Linked DNA regions of Homo sapiens. The protein of the gene in region 2 purifies or fractionates together with the protein of the main gene of each other region. This does not show direct contact. Each region holds a gene or a part of one and is shown on either strand. Other genes may lie near its edges.

Region 1 (8,210 bases), on a different chromosome or scaffold from region 2:
CCTTCTTCAGCTGCATATCCACGGGCAGATTTTTGTGAGGAGAGAGACTGACTACTGGTGTGTATATAGAAACTGATTTTTCTAATTGCAAGTTGTTATCTTCTAAACTGTTAGGGCAGGACTGTGTCTCCTCTTTCTGAGGCGGTAATCGATAAACTTCTCCCCCGAGAGCACTGTTGTTGACACATGCATCTTTAGCGGTGGTTATATCCACAGGGAGCACCTCACGCCTCTTTTTCAGTACAGGCACTTCAACTGTCTCTGAGAATAAAAACGAGTGGGGAAAAGAAAAAATCTAAGAAAACAAAGACACAATCAACACAAGAAGCCAGAACTAGTTATATGTATACCTTTTTCCATTCTTTTAAAATGCAACCATCTCCTCACTGAAATGCATCCTTTGTTTCTACCTTTTATTCTTTATCATGGAATCTATATAAACTATATATTTTAAAGTTTATTTGGCTATATATTTTTCCTTGGGAATTCAATATTTTGACTTTAGGCATGAATGCTTCACTGTTCTCTCTTGGTGTTTTGAAAAAGGTGGTTCATAAGATCTCAGTGTGGAGATGAAGAGACAGCGGCAGAGTCCAGGTTCGAATCCTAATCCTCGTATGTGACAGCCATGTCTTTGGGGAATTATTTAACCTCTCTGAGCTTCATTTTATCTGTAAAATGGGGATTAAAAGCACCCACTTCACTTGGTATTGTGTATTAGAAGGATTAAATGACAAGAATAGGCCAAACTTTCTGAATATTGGTAATATATGCCTGTTAGCTCTACCTACAAAATATAAGCAGAATCAGACTACTTTTATGATGGATACTTCCCTAGTCCAATCCTATCATGTCTCATCAAAGACTACTGCAATGCCTTCTATCCTCATGGCCTAATATCATTCTATCTAAACAGGTCATAAACACAGCCACTGAATTAACTGCTCTAATATCTTTTCCCTATGCCCATTATCGATGTGTTTCATTTTCAAAATCAAAATGTTAGTGGAGTCTGAGGAACACTGGTAGCACAAGGGGTTGCTGTTTTTGCTCTACATTGTTGCTTTTAGACCATGATTTCCCCTTTTTCTGGCACTGCTCCTTTGAAACCCACATTATCAGGATTCACTACCCTGCCTCCTGTCTATTTGCTGTGTTCAGTTCAACAGATGTTTGAAATTCATAATGGATAATTCTTAATCAGGGGAGCCTATTAGAATCATGGAAGAAACAAAAAGAGTTAAGAGCAAGAGAAGCCTTTTAAAATTGTGTAAAAACCTTCCTATTTTTGGCAACCTCCCCACTATTGTTGAGAATCATAGCAGTTCACTGAGACAATACGAAGAGAGACTGAGGCATGTGCAGAGTGCGGGGACAAAAACTTGTTGAGAATCCTTAACCTAAAACATGTAACACTCTTTTAGGGAAGGGGTGTTGTAGAACCATCACATTCTTAGACTCCTTCACACTTGGCCTTTTGTTTTTGAATTTACATACAGTAAACTTCACTCTCTGTAGTATATAAGATGCAGAGACTGTATGGTTAGGCTACTTTCCAGCTCAGTCATTAGACTTGCTAGATATTCCCTAATATGTTTCATTGTTCTTTCCTTTCCCCCCCATTTTGGTGGAGAATGGGGTCTTGCTATATTGCCCAAGCAAATCTCAAATTCCTGGGCACAGCTATCCTCCTCCCTCTGCCTCCCCAAGAGCTGGGATTACAGGCACGAGCCACCACGCCTGGCTCACTGTTCTTCCTTAATAAAAGAATTCCCAATATTTAGTTAGGAACATGGCCCCTGAGAATCAAGACTGCATTTCTCAGCCCTTCCTGTCAGCAGGTGAGGCTGCATGACTAAATTCTGCTCCACAGGATGGCAGCAGACCAACAAACACAAGAAGCCTGAATCTTGATACCGTGGAGTGCTTTCCCAGTCCTGGAAGGCCTCCTCCAGACTTCCATCAGAGGCAGAGATAAAGACCCACCTTTTTAAAGTCTCCATTACTTTAGATTTTCTATAAACAGTCCTACCTCGTATAGCTTCCAAACATCAGCTGCTTCAACATAATTAAACTATTAGGTATGACATAAAATACTGTAATCTTAAAATGGGAAAGTCTCAAATCTCAAGTTTCTACTATACAGTATGATGAAATTAGATATCCAAAAAGGATACATGTTATATTCAGGCACACCCAGTATCCAGTTCTCCCTGAATTTTCCTACCTATTTTACACAATAAATTTGCTTTATTAACTATAGGTATATAACTACAAATGAGTTTGTAATAGAGTTGCATAAAACTACAGTAAGAAAATAATTTGATATAATTTCAGGTTACTCATAATTTAAAAGACAAAAATATATGAGACATATATACCTTCAGGTTCATATTTTAGTTTCAATTCATCTAGTTTAGCTCTCAGTTTCATATTTTCACTTTCTGAAAGCTGGAGGCATCTTTCATTTGCAAAAAGTTTTCGCTCAATATCTAGAGCCCGCTGGCTCTCAAATAATGCTTTCATTCGCTGTATGGACAATTCACCTTTAGTGCTTTCAATTTCTTTGCTATGATAATAAAAAAGGAGAACCAACGAGTATTAAGACAGCATATAATAAGTGTAGTGGTATAAATATTTCATCGCATATTTGAATTCTTAGTTAAAAATACATTTTTCTGGGGTTTTTAGTAACAAAGAAACAATAAACAATTTAAATAATCCTTAACAATAGTAGTGTTAAATTTAAAAAATACTCATGCATTCTTGAAAGGAAATGGACAAAGGAGGAAATAGTCTTTCAAATGTATTCACACATGAATATCTGCACAAAGATATTTTTGTTACCTTTCTTTTCGGAAAATTTCCTTTGGCAATTTCAAAAAAACTTTGTAGTCACTGACACTACCATAGTAAGCAAGTGACATGTTCATCTTTCCATCCACCAACCCAGACACTTACTTTAAGTTATCCAGCTTCATCTGAAGTAAATCTGTATAATAGGTGTTATCTTCCAGAGTACCAGAGTCGACTGAAGGCTTAGATTCCATACTGTCATATAAATTCTTAAAAAAGCAAAAGTTTGTATTACTTAAAATAAATAACAAATAAGGTTAGTGTATGTTTATTAATAATAGCACCATCACTTCCTGAATTTATATCCCTTGGCGTACTACGCTAAGAACTACCCATTTAATTTATCTGCCTTCTGAAGTAGGTAAATAATTAACATTCCTCTCTTACAGATAAGGAAACAGGCTCCGAATACAGATGAAAGTAAACCAAGAAGAGAGAACCTGAACCCAAATCTGACTACAAGGCCTAGGCTTCTAGCCTTACCTACATGCTCTGCCTTCTCTCTCCTGGCTTTGAAAATAGAAAAACAAATGCCTGCTGGATTAAATTCTGGCCTTTGTAACAAAACCATAAACTGGAAAAATATGAAAGGAAGATGAGAGCCTTACATTTATATCTGGTGTCCCCCTCTTCTGAGATTCTTCCCCCCACCCCAGGCAAGAATGTAGTGCAAGCTCTTCTGAGACTGATGGAAACTATACATTTCTCTAGTGGGATAGAAAAGGTAAATCTGCTTAAAAACTTGAAACAATTTCAGGTTATAAATAAAATTCCCCTGATTTAAGGCCATAATTTTCAGAGTATAGTTCTGAGCCCACTGATGGAAACATAAGGCTGCCAACTTAACCAAATTTGTAGTTCTTTCAACAGTTTTTATAAGACACAGAAATAAAGTTATGTAAACTTAATTAAGATTTTATGACATACTAATGGCTACAATTTAGAATGCCTAAGAGGTTATTAACATTTACAAAAATTTGTCATTTAGAACTTTAGTTCATTAGGAGGTTAATGAAGATATCAATGTTCCCTAAGTCAATTTATAAAATCTTAAATTGCATGCAATTTTAATAGAAAGCCAACAAGCTTTTTTTGGTGCTAGACAAGATGTTTGTAAATGAAAGCTAACATTCAAAAATAGACAGGAAAATACTGAAAAATAAAAAGTATAGTGAGGAAATAGTCCTACCAGATAAACATACTTAAAAGCCTTTATAATTAATAAAACAGTGTGGTACAGACACACAGAGAAGCAGACCAATGGCGTAGACAGAAAATTTAGAAACAGACTCAAGTATATATGGAAACTTGATGTATGATAAAGGTGTCAACTCAAATCACTGGGATCAAGATTGATTTTTTAACAAATGACTCTGGGACAACTGCCTACTTATTTAGAAAACATGGGTGAATTCTTACACACACACACACACACACACACACACACACACAAATGCTTACACAAATACCATTCTCAACTAAAATAAACCAATGTTCCTTGAAGAAATGCTAATCCCAGAAGTGGGCCAGGTGAGCTAGGAAACCCTTGTTGTGCCATAGAGTAAGGAAATATTCAAGTAAGAGCACTTCGACTATCAAATCTGGGACAATTTGAGTATCAGAGTAAATAAAGCAAGCAATGGATTATAACTCATAGGATAAAATAAGAATCCATGAGGCTATACTGATATAAATGAATGAGTAAGTGAGGAAAAAGATTTTTCTTTTCTGTCCCTTTACTAAAATTCCAACTAATAAATATAGAAGAAGTGATGGAATTACCCATTTAGCAATCATCACAGAATTATGTTTCAGGCAAGAATCACCAATGGATGTTTAAGTATAAGGAGAAACAGCCATTTACTTAGTCTCAAAGTATCTCCCACAAGATATTTATTAATAATTTAAACTTAAAAAACAAACCAAATTTTAAGATATTCAAATCAAAATTTGGATGTGTGTTTTTTTAACTGTTATACATACCTTAAATTTCTCCAGATTTCTAATTTCACCTAAAAGATGTTTTATTTCACCATTCTTCTGCTCCAACATGGCAAGCAACCGTTCCTGCTGCTCAAATTCAGTTTGAGACCCTTTCATCTGTAGCAACGTGGCAATTTGTAACTAGAAAAATAAAATTACCCCCTCTAATAAAATTAAGTGAGAGAAAGATTCTGATAACTACTTTTTTGATACAATTCATAATTTGTACTATATTACTTTGAACTCATTTTGGAAACTAAATTAGCTATTTCTAATCTAATAATAAATTTTTTTGTAGACATAACATTTGAATACTTATTTTGACTACTTATGAATGATAACTGAAGTCTGTAATGTAATTATTTGTACTTTTGTGAAACATAAAACTGACTTGCATGGCTGTGGTCTGAAAGCACACCACTGAACTGGTAAGTAAGCCTGGCCAAACGCTGCAGACTGCTTATCATAAGCACTCGCTCTTATTAAGGTTCTGATGGGTTTCTCAAAATTTTTAATTAACTTTAATTAAGTGAGGAAAACTAAGCTACTGACAGCCACAAATGTTAGATTCACAAATGACGTTAAAAGCAAAGATAAAAGGCTATCTTAGTATACTGGGGTAATCTTCAATATACCATGTTTTAATTTTTTTAGAGCAGCACTCAACTTACCTCATTATACCTCCCCCACCCCAAATCTGGAGTTGTGAAGCTACCAGAGGGAAATTAAGTAGACTCTAAATCTAGCATTTCTTTCTGCCTTTGGAAATTTCTGGAGTTGAAAAGAGTGCCTATTAGTTTAAATATAGTTTTGAGTAAAACAATCAATGATATGAGGTTGCAGATGACTTTTAACATTTTAAAGGATATCCTTTTTGTTCCTGTTTCAGATTGGAGGCTAGGCCCACTTAGCCTAAGACTCAGAATGCTTCTAGTCTCTAAAGATAGTTTGGGACATATGCAACATTGGTAGATTAAAAGTAACCCCAACAAATACTGTAAGAAAACTAAAGTAAACGTGAGAAAATTTATAAAGAAATACTTCCCAGACAGGGGAGAGTCTCAGGAAATGAGGCAGCACAGTCTGGAAACCCTTAGAAATAAAATTCACAGCTGTTGTTCATTAAACACTCATTTGCCAAGTAGCAGGTTAAGTATTTTACTACACTTTCATTTAACTGTAGGACAATTCTAAGAGGGGGTTCTATCATCTTCACTTAATAGATGAGGTACTGTTGCTTTCAAAGTTAAAATACTTGTCCAAGGTCACAGAGCTAGCAAGTGACAAAACTATGATTCAAACCCAAATCCACCTAACTCCCAAATTTAATCATTAACCTTTCCCATTTCTTTGGCAAAGCCCATGATTCTGAATAAAAGGAAGGAAGCCTTTCCAGATTCCAATTACTACCTCAGTAGAGTGAGGCACAATGGATGAGGGATCAGGATTCTAAGGACTGTTACAATACTGAAATCTTTCTAATTCCCACATGTTTTTCTGCTACCTCTTATTTGGCTAGAATGACAACCAACAAAACCCGTAAAATTAAAAGGGTCTATGTGCTTGACTTGAGGAGCTACAAGGAAAGGGAACCCTGAATAATCCAAATTTCACTCCATAATAAGCCTTGGTGAAAGAGCAGAGGAATGGTGAGGCAGCGAGTTTCAGCTGAAGTAGGAACCCTAGGGCTATGCTTGGAAAGACATCAGGCCAAGAATAAGAAATAAATACTTTTCTTTCTTCTACTCCACAAAGAAAGATTTAAGTCAAAGCTAGTGAGTAACCATTAAAACAAACAATAATCATTGCTAAATATACTATTACTAAATATTTATTCCAAGATTTTTAAACTATAAATGAATCTTTTAATTTCAAAATTGATTTTTTGAAATCATGCAGTTCTAGAAACAACTATATAAGTACACTCCTTGCAGAAAAAGCTAGTTTCTTTGATGTATTCATACATGTAATGCTGACACAAAATTTGTTTAATAAACCTTTGATAGTGAAAGTTCTATACCTTCATTCTCTGCATCTGTTCTCTGTTAAATACATTTTGCTTCTTTAGTGACTGATACTTGACTTTCATACTGATGAGCTGACGTTCCATTGCTGCCCTTCGATCTTCCACCTACAAAATATTAACATGCTTAATTGTTCTGGTAGTAAATGAAAATACCAATTTAGTAGTTAGGATACTTATAAGTACCTCTGCAAACAAAGAGTTGCCTTTACTATTGGGATCCAAGGCTTGCTGGAGTGCCTGGTCCAACTGTACCTGAAGATCTTGATTTGCTACACGAGCTTTCTAAATTCAAAAGAAAACAATTTAGGCAACAGAGATTACATTAGCAAGAAAATAAGTTATGATAAATTGGAAAACATGATGTTACTGTAATCATAGTACCTCTAGGGCATTATAGTAAGAAACTGCTTCTTTCTCTCGCTCCTCTTTTTCCTCTTTAAGCCGGTCTACCTGGCGCATTAGGTTAGTAATAAGAAGTTCTAGCTGTTCTTGTCTGTATTGTAGTTCATTCACTTCTTCTTTGAGGGTGGTCTATTTAACAGGAATTGAAAAGGAGGAAATTCTCTTGAATAATCTTTCATTTGGCAGCTGCTCAGTTTATCTCAGTTGTGGTTCACATCCAAAATTAAAACTAAAGAACCAGTCAAAAGTTGTCAGGTACATTCTAAAATAATAGAAATTACTATTACTGTTAAATTTTTCAACAAGGAAACAAATGGCTTTAGAGACTGCCCTTTTTCCTCTATCAATTTCAGGCTTTAATTTTTAATTAACCTTAGCTTTCAATGAAAAAACCAAGTTCACATGCATTTCAACTTCCACTGAGCCAACGTTTTACACTGGGCTCTTACGATAAAATCTGGGATCAGAGTATATGCCTCTAAATTCTTCCAGACGTTTCATTAATCTAAGAGAAAGGCTGCCTTACATAATCATATAGTCTAAAGCTATATTATGAATGAAGTCATCCACCTAAAAAAAACCCATTTTTTAATTAGTTAGATGCAAGTTAGGTCAAAAAATGTTTCAGCCTTCAAACTAGCTCTTAAGAATTATTACCAAAACATGTAAAAATATGCCAGAAAAAAAAAGAGAAAACCCTGAGAAACACATGCCATAAAAATTACCTTCATACTCTCCATTTCTGTCAGCTCAATTTGAAGAGCCAGCATCTCTGAAGACATGCTTTCCTGCACACGTTCAGACATTACGCGCAGTTCCTCTGATTTACAAGAGAGGAGTTCCTTCTGATGATCTACTTGGTGCTTCAGCTGCTTTTCACTAAGCCTGGCTTCATCTAATTCCACTTTCAGTTTTTCTATCTAAAGCCAAAAAAAAAAAAGTC
Region 2 (9,121 bases):
GGGCCGGGCGCGGTGGCTCACGCCTGTAATCCCAGCACTTTGGGAGGCCGAGGCGGGTGGATCACGAGGTCAGGAGATCAAGACCATCCTGGCTAACACAGTGAAACCCCATCTCTACTAAAAATACAGAAAAAAAAAATTAGCCGGGCGTGTTGGCGGGAGCCTGTAGTCCCAGTTACTCGGGAGGCTCAGGCAGGAGAATGGCGGGAACCCGGGAGGCGGAGCTTGCAGTGAGCCGAGATCGGGCCACTACACTCCAGCCTGGGAGACAGAGCAAGACTCCGTCTCAAAAAAAAAAAAAAAAAAAATAGCCAGGTGTGGTAGCACTGGCCTGTGATTCCGGCTACCCTGGAAGCTGAGGCAGGAGGATCACTTGAGCCCAGGAGATCGAGGCTGCAAGTGAGTCATGATTGTGCCACTGCACTCCAGCCTGGGCAACAGAGTGAGACCCTGTCTCCAAAAAAAAAATCTAGCCCTGTGTTTCCTAACATCGGTGTGAGGCACCCCCATACCTCTCTTCCCACTTTTTTTTAAGACAGGGTCCCGCCCTGTTGTCCAGGTTGGAGTACAGTGGCAGCATGATCATAGCTCACTGAAGCCTAGACCTCTTGGGCTCAAATGCTTTTCCTGAGTAGCTGGGACTACAATGCACACCACCATGCCCGGCTAATTTTATTTTTTGTAGAGACAGGGTCTCACTATGTTTCCCAGTCTGGTCTTGAACTTCTGAGCTCAAAAGATCATCCTGCCTCAGCCTCCCGAGTAGCTAGGACTAGAGGCTCATGCCACCATACCCGGCTAGTTTTTATTTTTAGTAGAGACAAAAACCTCACTTACGTTGCCCAAACTATTCTCAAACTCCTGGACTCAAGCAATCCTCCTGCCTCCGCCTCCAAAAGTGTTGGGATTACAGGTGTGAGCCACTGAATCTGGCCCATAGGTCTTTTTTTTTTTGAGATGGAGTCTCAACTGTTGCAGGGGCTAGTGTGTAGTGGCACAATCTCGGTTCACTGCAACCTCTGCATCCCGGGTTCAAGCGATTCTCCTGCCTCAGCCTCCCGAGTAGCTAGGATTACAGGCGCCAGCCACCATGCCCAGCCTGGCTAATTTTTTGTATTTTTAATAGAGACGGGGTTTCACTATGTTGGCCAGGCTGGTCTTGAACTCCTGAACTCGTGATCCACCCGCCTCAGCCTCCCAAAGTGCTGGGATTACAGGCGTGAGCCATGGCGCCCGGCTTTTTTTTTTTTTTTTTTTTTTTTAAGACAGTCTCGCTGGAGTGCAGTGGCAGAATCTCGGCTCACTGCAACCTCTGCCTCCCGGGTTCAAGCGATTCTTGTGCCTCGACCTACTAGTAGCTGGAATTACAGGTGTGAGCCACCACACCTGGCCAGATCTTTCTTAATACCTCAAAACAACTAGGAATTTGGGCTGGGCATGGTGGCTCACGCCTGTAATCCCAGCACTTTGGGAGGCCAAGGTGGGTGGATCACTTGAGGACAGGAGTTCAAGACCAGCCTGGCCAACATGGCAAAACCCCATCTCCACTAGAAATGCAAAACCTAGCCAGGTGTGGTGGCACACACCTGTAATTCCAGCTACTTGGGAGGCTGAGGCATTTGAACCCAGGAGGCAGAGGTTGCAGTGAGCTGAGACCACGCCACTGCACTACAGCCTGGGCAACAGAGCAAGACTTCGTCTCAAAAAACAAAAAAAAACAGCTAGGTTTGGCTACAAAGGATTCACAGGGTATTGGAGACTGCAGTTGGAACAGAGTTTTCCCAAAAAGCAACAGGGCTTCTGCCTCCTGGGCTTAGCAGATGTGACCTTGGACAAGTTACTAAGCCTTTCTGAGCTTCATTTTTCTCATCTGTAGGATGAGGTGTCTCCAGGTTATTGTGAAGATGTGTATATGCGGTGCTTTATGAACCACAAAGCTGCATGTGGTTGTCAGGTTCCCTCTTCTGGCCTTGTGAGCTGGAGACACACACACACATTTCTCCCCAAACTGTCTCAGCCCCCAGGCACCTACTGCAAGGACTCGGGGATCGTGCAGAGGTGCAAAGGAGTCGTGCCCTCCTCAGTCAGCACATTAGCCTTGGCTCCGAAGGTCAGCAGCAGCCGCACACAGTCAAACTGGGCTCGGGCACAGGCCTCATGCAAGGCAGCGCGACCCCCGACACGGGCATCCAGCTCAGCTCCCTGCCGGATCAGGTGTCGAGCACAGTCTGTGTAGCCTCGGGCTGTAGCGATGGCGAGGGGTGCCGTCTGCTTGGTCTTGGGGGTCAGCACCCAGAACCCTAGGGAGAGCAAATAGTTTTGGGAGGTGGTGTATAAGACAGGGCAGGGCAGGGAGTGGGGATGCTGGTTCCAGCTGACAGCTGACACTGGCCTTCCCTCTGCATGGTTTGCTGAGCACAAACACTGCCAGGCTGTACCTGTGGAAGGGGGCTTATTCAAGTCCTGAAGTGGAAGAATAAATTGGAACAGCCTTTTAATACAGCTTATCAATCTGTAACAAAACATAGTATGTGTCATAAAAAAATTAATTGCTGTATAAAACCACAGGGGCCAACTAAGTAGAGTGACTCCCATTAAGGAAATCTCAGCGTCTTTGAATGGCTAATAGTGTCAAAGGCTTGTTCACCTTGGGGCCTGGGGTGGTGGCTCACACCTGTAATCCTAGCACTTTGGGAGGCCAAGGCGGGATGATCACTTGACCTCAGGAGTTCGAGATGAGCCTGGGCAACATAGTGAGACCTTGTCTCTTTTTTTTTTTTTTTTAGGCAGGGTCTCGCTCTGTCCCCCAGGCTGGAATGCAGTGGCGCTATCTTGGCTCACTGCAAGCTCCGCCTCCCGGGTTTAAGTGATTCTTCTGCCTCAGCTGCTGAGTAGCTGGGATTACAGGTGCGCACCACCATGCCCGGCTAATTTTTCTATTTTTAGTAGAGATGGGGTTTTACCATGTTGGTCAGGCTGGTCTCAAACTTCTGACTTCGTGATCCGCCTGCCTTGGCCTCCCAAAGTGCTGGGATTACAGGCGTGAGCCACTGTGCCCGGTCAACTTTTAATTCTTAAAAGACATACAGACTGCTAACCCTGCCTCATCTCTGTTTAGGAGGGAGCTAGGATAGGTGGTGGAAAGGGCTGCTATAGTCTGTGGTCTGCAGGGAAGGAGGGGCCTAGACTCTCCCCCTTCCCCACCCACTCCCCTTCTTTCTCCCTCCTCTTCTGCCCTCTTCTGGTGCCCCCTACCCTGTTCAGCCGACCAGGCCAGCTGGTTGCTCACAGTCTCCACAATCATGTTGGCGGCCTCTTCATCTTGGAACAGGGCTTGGACCTGCTGCAGGTTGCCGGAGAAGAGGGCTTGGTGGACAGCTGGGTCTCGGCAGGAACGGTGAGGCCTAGTGAGTCGGGCCCGGGGACTTGACGGGCACCTGCGGCTCCGGCACTGCTGGGCAGCCGCCCGCCGCCGGTCCTCCCATTCCAGCCACTCCTGCTGCAGGCGGAGAGAGCGCAGCATGGAGGAGGTGAAGGGGAAGGTCTCTCTTGCCATGGATGGGGCCCAGGGGTTTGGGCAGTGGCACCTGGGCAGAGCCAGGTTCCCTCGACCCGACTACCTCCCTTGCTCTGAGGAGCCACCCTGCCCCCGCCACCGTGAGCCAGAGAAAGCAGCAGCTGAGGCTATAAATAGGTCCTTTGCTGCTCTGGTAAACATGGTTTGCTCAGAGTCATGATCCTGGTGCTGAGAAGCTGCTGGCCCAACCCCCAGCCCAGGGTGAGGGCCAGCCCCTGCCCCTGCCGATACCCTTTGGTTGGTCAGCAGGCCCTCAGCTGAGGCCACCCCCGAACCCCAGCATCTGCATCCACCTTCATCTCTAGAGCGAGCATCTTGGGTTGGCAAGGTCCAGGGTGCGCAAAAAGGTCAGTCATGGAGATGGGCAGGGCTGGGAGGAAGACAAGGTGCCTCCAGCCTCTCTGATGTTGGCTGGAGGGCAGGAGCCACCATTGGCCCACGTGGAGGAGAGAGGGCTGACCTCAGCACAGGAGGTAAGGGGAGGTCAAGGCAGAGTTACTGAGAAGGTGAGCAGCTCTTCCCAGCATCTGCAGTAACAGCAATAACTCTGTACATATGCACAGAGTTTCACGGTGTTTAAATCACATTCATATCCACCTTCACCCAGGGGATCATACTTCCCAGCCCACCCAATAATTAGTAAACTTGGTTTGGACAATAAATGAAATTATCACAGTTGAATGCCCCTGAGATGGGTGGTCTTATCTCTGTTTTACAGATGAGGAATTTAAGGCTTAACAAAGTAATCTACTGGCTCAAGGTCACAGTTTGTGAGAGGCAGAGCCAGGACCCCACATAGATGGTGTGCTTTGGGCCAAGAATGGTGGCTCATGCCTGTAATCCTAGCACTTTGGGAGGCCAAGACAGGAGGATTGCTTGAGCCTAGGAGTTTGAGACAATCCTGGGCAACACAGTGAGACCTATATCTTTTTTTTTTTTTTTTTTTTTTTTGAGACAGAGTCTCACCCTGTCTCCCATGCTGGAGTGCAATGGCACGATCTTGGCTCACTGCAACCTCCGCCTCCCGGGCTCAAACGATTCTCTTGCCTCAGCCTCCTGAGTAGCTGGGATTATAGGCACCCGCCACCATGCCCAGCTAAATTTTGTATTTTTAGTAGAGATTTAATTTAGGGTTTCACCATGTTGGCCAGGCTGGTCTCGAACTCCTGACCTCGTGGTCTGCCCGCCTCGGCCTCCCAAAGTGCTAGGATTATAGGCGTGAGCCACCACCCCCTGCCTCTCCATCTCTTAAAAAAAGAAGAAAAAAAAAAAAAGATGGTACACTTTTTGCCTTCAGCTGCTGCAGCCACCTGGCAGCCTCCCCCATTCTCCAAGCAGGACAGACTAGTCTGTAGAAACTGCCTTCAATCATCCTTTTTTTTTTTTTCTCATGGTGTCACCCAGTCTGGAGTGCAGTGGGGTGATCTCGGCTCACTGAAACCTCCGTTTCCTGGGGTTCAAGTGATTCTCCTGCCTTAGCTGCCTGAGTAGCTGGGATTATAGGTGCATGCCACCATGCCCAGCTGATTTTTGTATTTTTATTTATTATTATTTTTTTTTTGAGATGGAGTCTCGCTCTGTCACCCAGGCTGGAGTGCAGTGGCGCGACCTCGGCTCACTGCAAGCTCCGCCTCCCGGGTTCACGCCATTCTCCTGCCTCAGCCTCCCGAGTAGCTGGGACCACAGGCGCCTGCCACCACACCTGGCTAATTTTTTGTATTTTTAGTAGAGACAAGGTTTCGCCGTATTAGCCAAGAATAGGATGGTTTCGATCTCCTGACCTCGTGATCCGCCCGCCTCGGCCTCCCAAAGTGCTGGGATCACAGGCGTGAGCCACCGCGCCCGGCCGATTTTTGTATTTTTAGTAGTCGGTTTCGCCATGTTGGCCAGGCTGGTCTGAAACTCCTGACTTCAGGCGATCTGCCCGCCTCGGCCCCCCAAAGTGTTGGTATTACAGGCGTGAGCCACAGCTCCCAGCACCTTCAATCATCCTTGATTTATTTTTTTAACCCAGCTGCTAAGGGGGCTCACATGGCCGGCCTGAGGAGAGCCAAGGGGTTGAGCTGGAAACTCTGGGAATGGACCTAAGATGTTTAAGCCACAGACCTGTTCACTCTTAGGAGAAAGCAGCTGTGCTTCCAGGAGCCTCTAGGGGGAGGAATGAAGCCGTGAAACCACACAAGCTGGTGTGCCTGCCAAGCTGGGGAAGGGGAGGGCTCAAAAGCTCTGCTCACCCTGAGCTCACTCAGTGCACAGCGGCCTGCAGGCAGGGCTGGTCTGTCCCCTCTGCATCTGGGGCTCCTCCTGGCCCTTCTCCCGCTGCCTGTCCTGCCTCCTGGCCCTGCAGCAGCACCTTGCCCAGTGATCTTTTATTTCTTCCTCTCCCTAGGCCCTTCCCATAAGCAAGTTCTAGCTCCTGTTCTTACATTTTCAGGGACTGTCTCAAGTTCAGCCCCTCGATGTAATGCCTTAAACCTGGATCAACTCAGTCTTTCACCTGGTGTTTCTTCCTCTGGCCATATCCCTTCTGCTCCGCTGCCGGAATGATCTGTCTAAAATGGTTAATTCCCTTGCTTAAAAACTTCTGCTGCCTTCCAATACCTGTCCTTTCATTTTTTTAAAATAGGGCTCCAAATCCTGGCCTCAAGCAGTCCTCCCAAGTCAGCCTCCTGAATTGCTGGGATTACAGGTGTGAGCCACTGCACCTGGCCTGCCCTTTTCAACTAAGCCCCCAATTCCTTGGTTTGGCCCCATGCCACTCACGTAGGGTAGGCATCCTCATCACGCACGGCTCCCCACAACCGTTCCCTGTCAGGCCATTCCCTTAGCTCAGAATTCCCTCAACACCTTCCTGAGGATCTACCCCTAAGGTCACCTGCTCTGAGAGGTCTCTTCAGCAACCCATTGCCTGACTCTTATAGTTCCAGCCACTGCCCAATCTGCACTCCTGAAGGACTCAGGGGCACGCTGTAAAGCACCTATCTATGCTGTTGATGTGGGTCTGCCATGCTGGATGTGGGCTCCAGAGCAGGCCCTGGCAGTCAGAGCACTTGGCTCATGGCAGGCGGGCCTCTTATGTGTAGTGCATTGAACGAAGGTCCCTGTTCTCTGCCAGAGCAAACATCCATCCACCCGCCCGCCCAAGTGGGTGGCAGCAGCCTGGGCTTTTTCCGGCATTGCCCCTACTCTACTGTTCACCTACTCTCTGCCTGGCTCCAGCCTCTTGGTGGCAGTCCAGGGTGGGGGATCCCAGAGGAGGAATTAGATCATACAAAGCAAAGCCTGGAGGTCCTCAGAGAAAGATGCCTCTATAAATGCAGCCTTGATGAACCCTGTTGGCACCCATTTGGTGTGTTAATTGCCACATCAACGGCCTGGCTGGGCACCCACAGCTGGGTTCCCAGGGTTGAGAATCTGGCAAGGCTGGGTGAGACCAAGAGAGGCCAAGGCAGGTGGGTGTCCCCTTCCTCCCTGAGGCACACAAGAGTCATAGCCTAGCCCCTCCCCTGCCTTCTTGCCACACAGACCTGAAGGAGCTAGGTACCCTAACAGCTTAGTCCCAAGATACCACTGTATTCAGTCCCCTTGTCTGTAGAGTTAGCTTCCTGAGGGCAGAGAAAGGAGGCCTTGACTTCAACCTGGAGGGAACAGGGCCAGGTGATCAGATGCCCAGCCTGCCTTCTGGGATCTCAGAGCCTGTGGGGTAGTGAAGCACACAAGAAGCCAGGATGTGAGCGTGGGATTGATCAGGACTGAGCAGGGGGACCGGGGCTCATGGGTGTCAAGAATGGGGAATAGGCCCAGGGCAGAGGGGAGCTTTTATTTTTTTAGAGACGAAATCTCCCTATGTTGCCCAGGCTGGTCTCAATCTTCTAGGCTCAAGTGATTCTCTCACCTCAGCCTCCCAAGTGGCTGGGACTACAGGTGCATGCTGCCACTCCCAGCTGTGGGGGTTTAGGTGCAGGAAGATCCCAGTGTAGATGGGGAGTTAGCAGGGAGTGGAAGGTGGGAGAGAAGGAAATGTATGGTAGGTTCAGGTAGAAAAACCCAATGGGAATGTGAAGGGACCAGGGTGCAGGGGAATTAGCCCCTTCTTGCCCTGGCCTTGTGGCACAAAAGCCTCTAGAACAGGGCCCTGCTGTAATCAGCAGGTAAGTGAACATGGAGTTCTCAAAGCACTTACTCACTTCAGCCTTAAGACTGGGATCCAGTGGGGCACTGTGGCTCACACCTGTAATCCCAGCACTTTGGGAGGCTGAGGTGGGAAGGATCACTTGAGCCCGGGAGTTCAAGACCAGTCTGGAGAACACAGCAAGACTCCATCTCTACAGAAAAATGTTGTTAATTAGCTAGGCGTGGTGGCACGCACCAGTAGTCTGTTACTTGGGAGGCTGAGATGGGAGGACTGCTTAAGCCTAGGAGATCGAGGCTGCAGTGAGCCATGATCACACCACTGCACTGCACTCCAGTTTGGTGACAGAGTGAGACCATGTCTCTAAAACGACGACAACAACAACAACAAAACTGGAATCCATGGGATCAGCCTCTTTGGGAAAAGGAGATTAACGCTTCCCCCCAGAGGAGTGCCAAGCCCATGCCCATGGAAGGCCTCTGTCTCCTAGCTGCTTAGTGCAGGCTGAGGCTAAGGCAGGAGGGGCTGGCTGTCAAACAGGGCTATTTATTATTTTATTTACTTATTCAAGAGATAGCATCTCACCACCTTGCTCAGGCTGGGCTTGAACTCCTGGGCCCAAGGGATCCTCCCACCTCGGCCTCCCAAAGTGCTGGGATTACAGGCATGAGCCTCCACACCTGGCCCAAACCGGGCTCTTTAACCTGCCTCCTCTTGCCCATGAGTTGGGAGAGTTTTCCCAACTCCTCCTTCCAGAAAGGAAAACAAGGTTGGCAACTTGGTATAATTAGACCTTTTACACCCCACCCATGCCTCTTGTCCACCTCTAGTCCGAAAATTGGTACAGAGAAGTCACAGCAATGAAGAGTTGCTTGGCAACAAAATTTTATTTTATTTTACTTTTTGAGATGGAGTCTCGCTCTGTCACCCAGGCTGGAGGCAGTGGCGCGATCTCGGCTCACTGCAAGCTCCGCCTCCGGGGTTCACACCATTCTCCTGCCTCAGCCTCCCAAGTAGCTGGGACTACAGGCGCCCGCCACCATGCCTGGCTAATTTTTTGTATTTTTAATAGAGACAAGGTTTCACTGTGTTAGCCAGGATGGTCTTGATCTCCTGACCTCGTGATCCGCCTGCCTCGGCCTCCCAAAGTGCTGGGACTACAGGTGTGAGCCACCACGCCTGGCCACACTTGGCAACAAAATTAAGTAGTTTGAGATCATATCCCAAAGTATAAAATAAATACCTGTAAGTCCATGCTGATATAAATGGATGAATGAATAAATAAGGGAGAATAGGCAAATCTCCCATGCAGAAGAATTCCAAATAAACTGCCGGGTGCGGTGGCTCACGCCTGTAATCCCAGCACTTTGAGAGGTCGAGGCGGGCGGATCACAAGGTCAGGAGTCCGAGAC

Evidence for each region.
Region 1: the proteins of ASB16 (region 2) and SPDL1 purify together in Homo sapiens (affinity purification with mass spectrometry; 2 studies listed by BioGRID and IntAct, with this or other methods). This does not show direct contact.

What each region holds. Positions count from the first base shown.
Region 1 is NC_000005.10:169,593,331-169,601,540, reverse strand, and holds part of SPDL1 (protein Spindly), read right to left. Parts: intron 8,188-8,210; coding exon 7,993-8,187; intron 7,397-7,992; coding exon 7,247-7,396; intron 7,148-7,246; coding exon 7,049-7,147; intron 6,971-7,048; coding exon 6,860-6,970; intron 4,981-6,859; coding exon 4,840-4,980; intron 3,066-4,839; coding exon 2,962-3,065; intron 2,570-2,961; coding exon 2,382-2,569; intron 262-2,381; coding exon 1-261. UniProt on the Homo sapiens protein: Required for the localization of dynein and dynactin to the mitotic kintochore.
Region 2 is NC_000017.11:44,165,225-44,174,345, reverse strand, and holds the start of ASB16 (ankyrin repeat and SOCS box protein 16), read right to left. Parts: upstream 3,643-9,121; 5' UTR 3,557-3,642; coding exon 3,256-3,556; intron 2,301-3,255; coding exon 2,033-2,300; intron 1-2,032. UniProt on the Homo sapiens protein: May be a substrate-recognition component of a SCF-like ECS (Elongin-Cullin-SOCS-box protein) E3 ubiquitin-protein ligase complex which mediates the ubiquitination and subsequent proteasomal degradation of target proteins.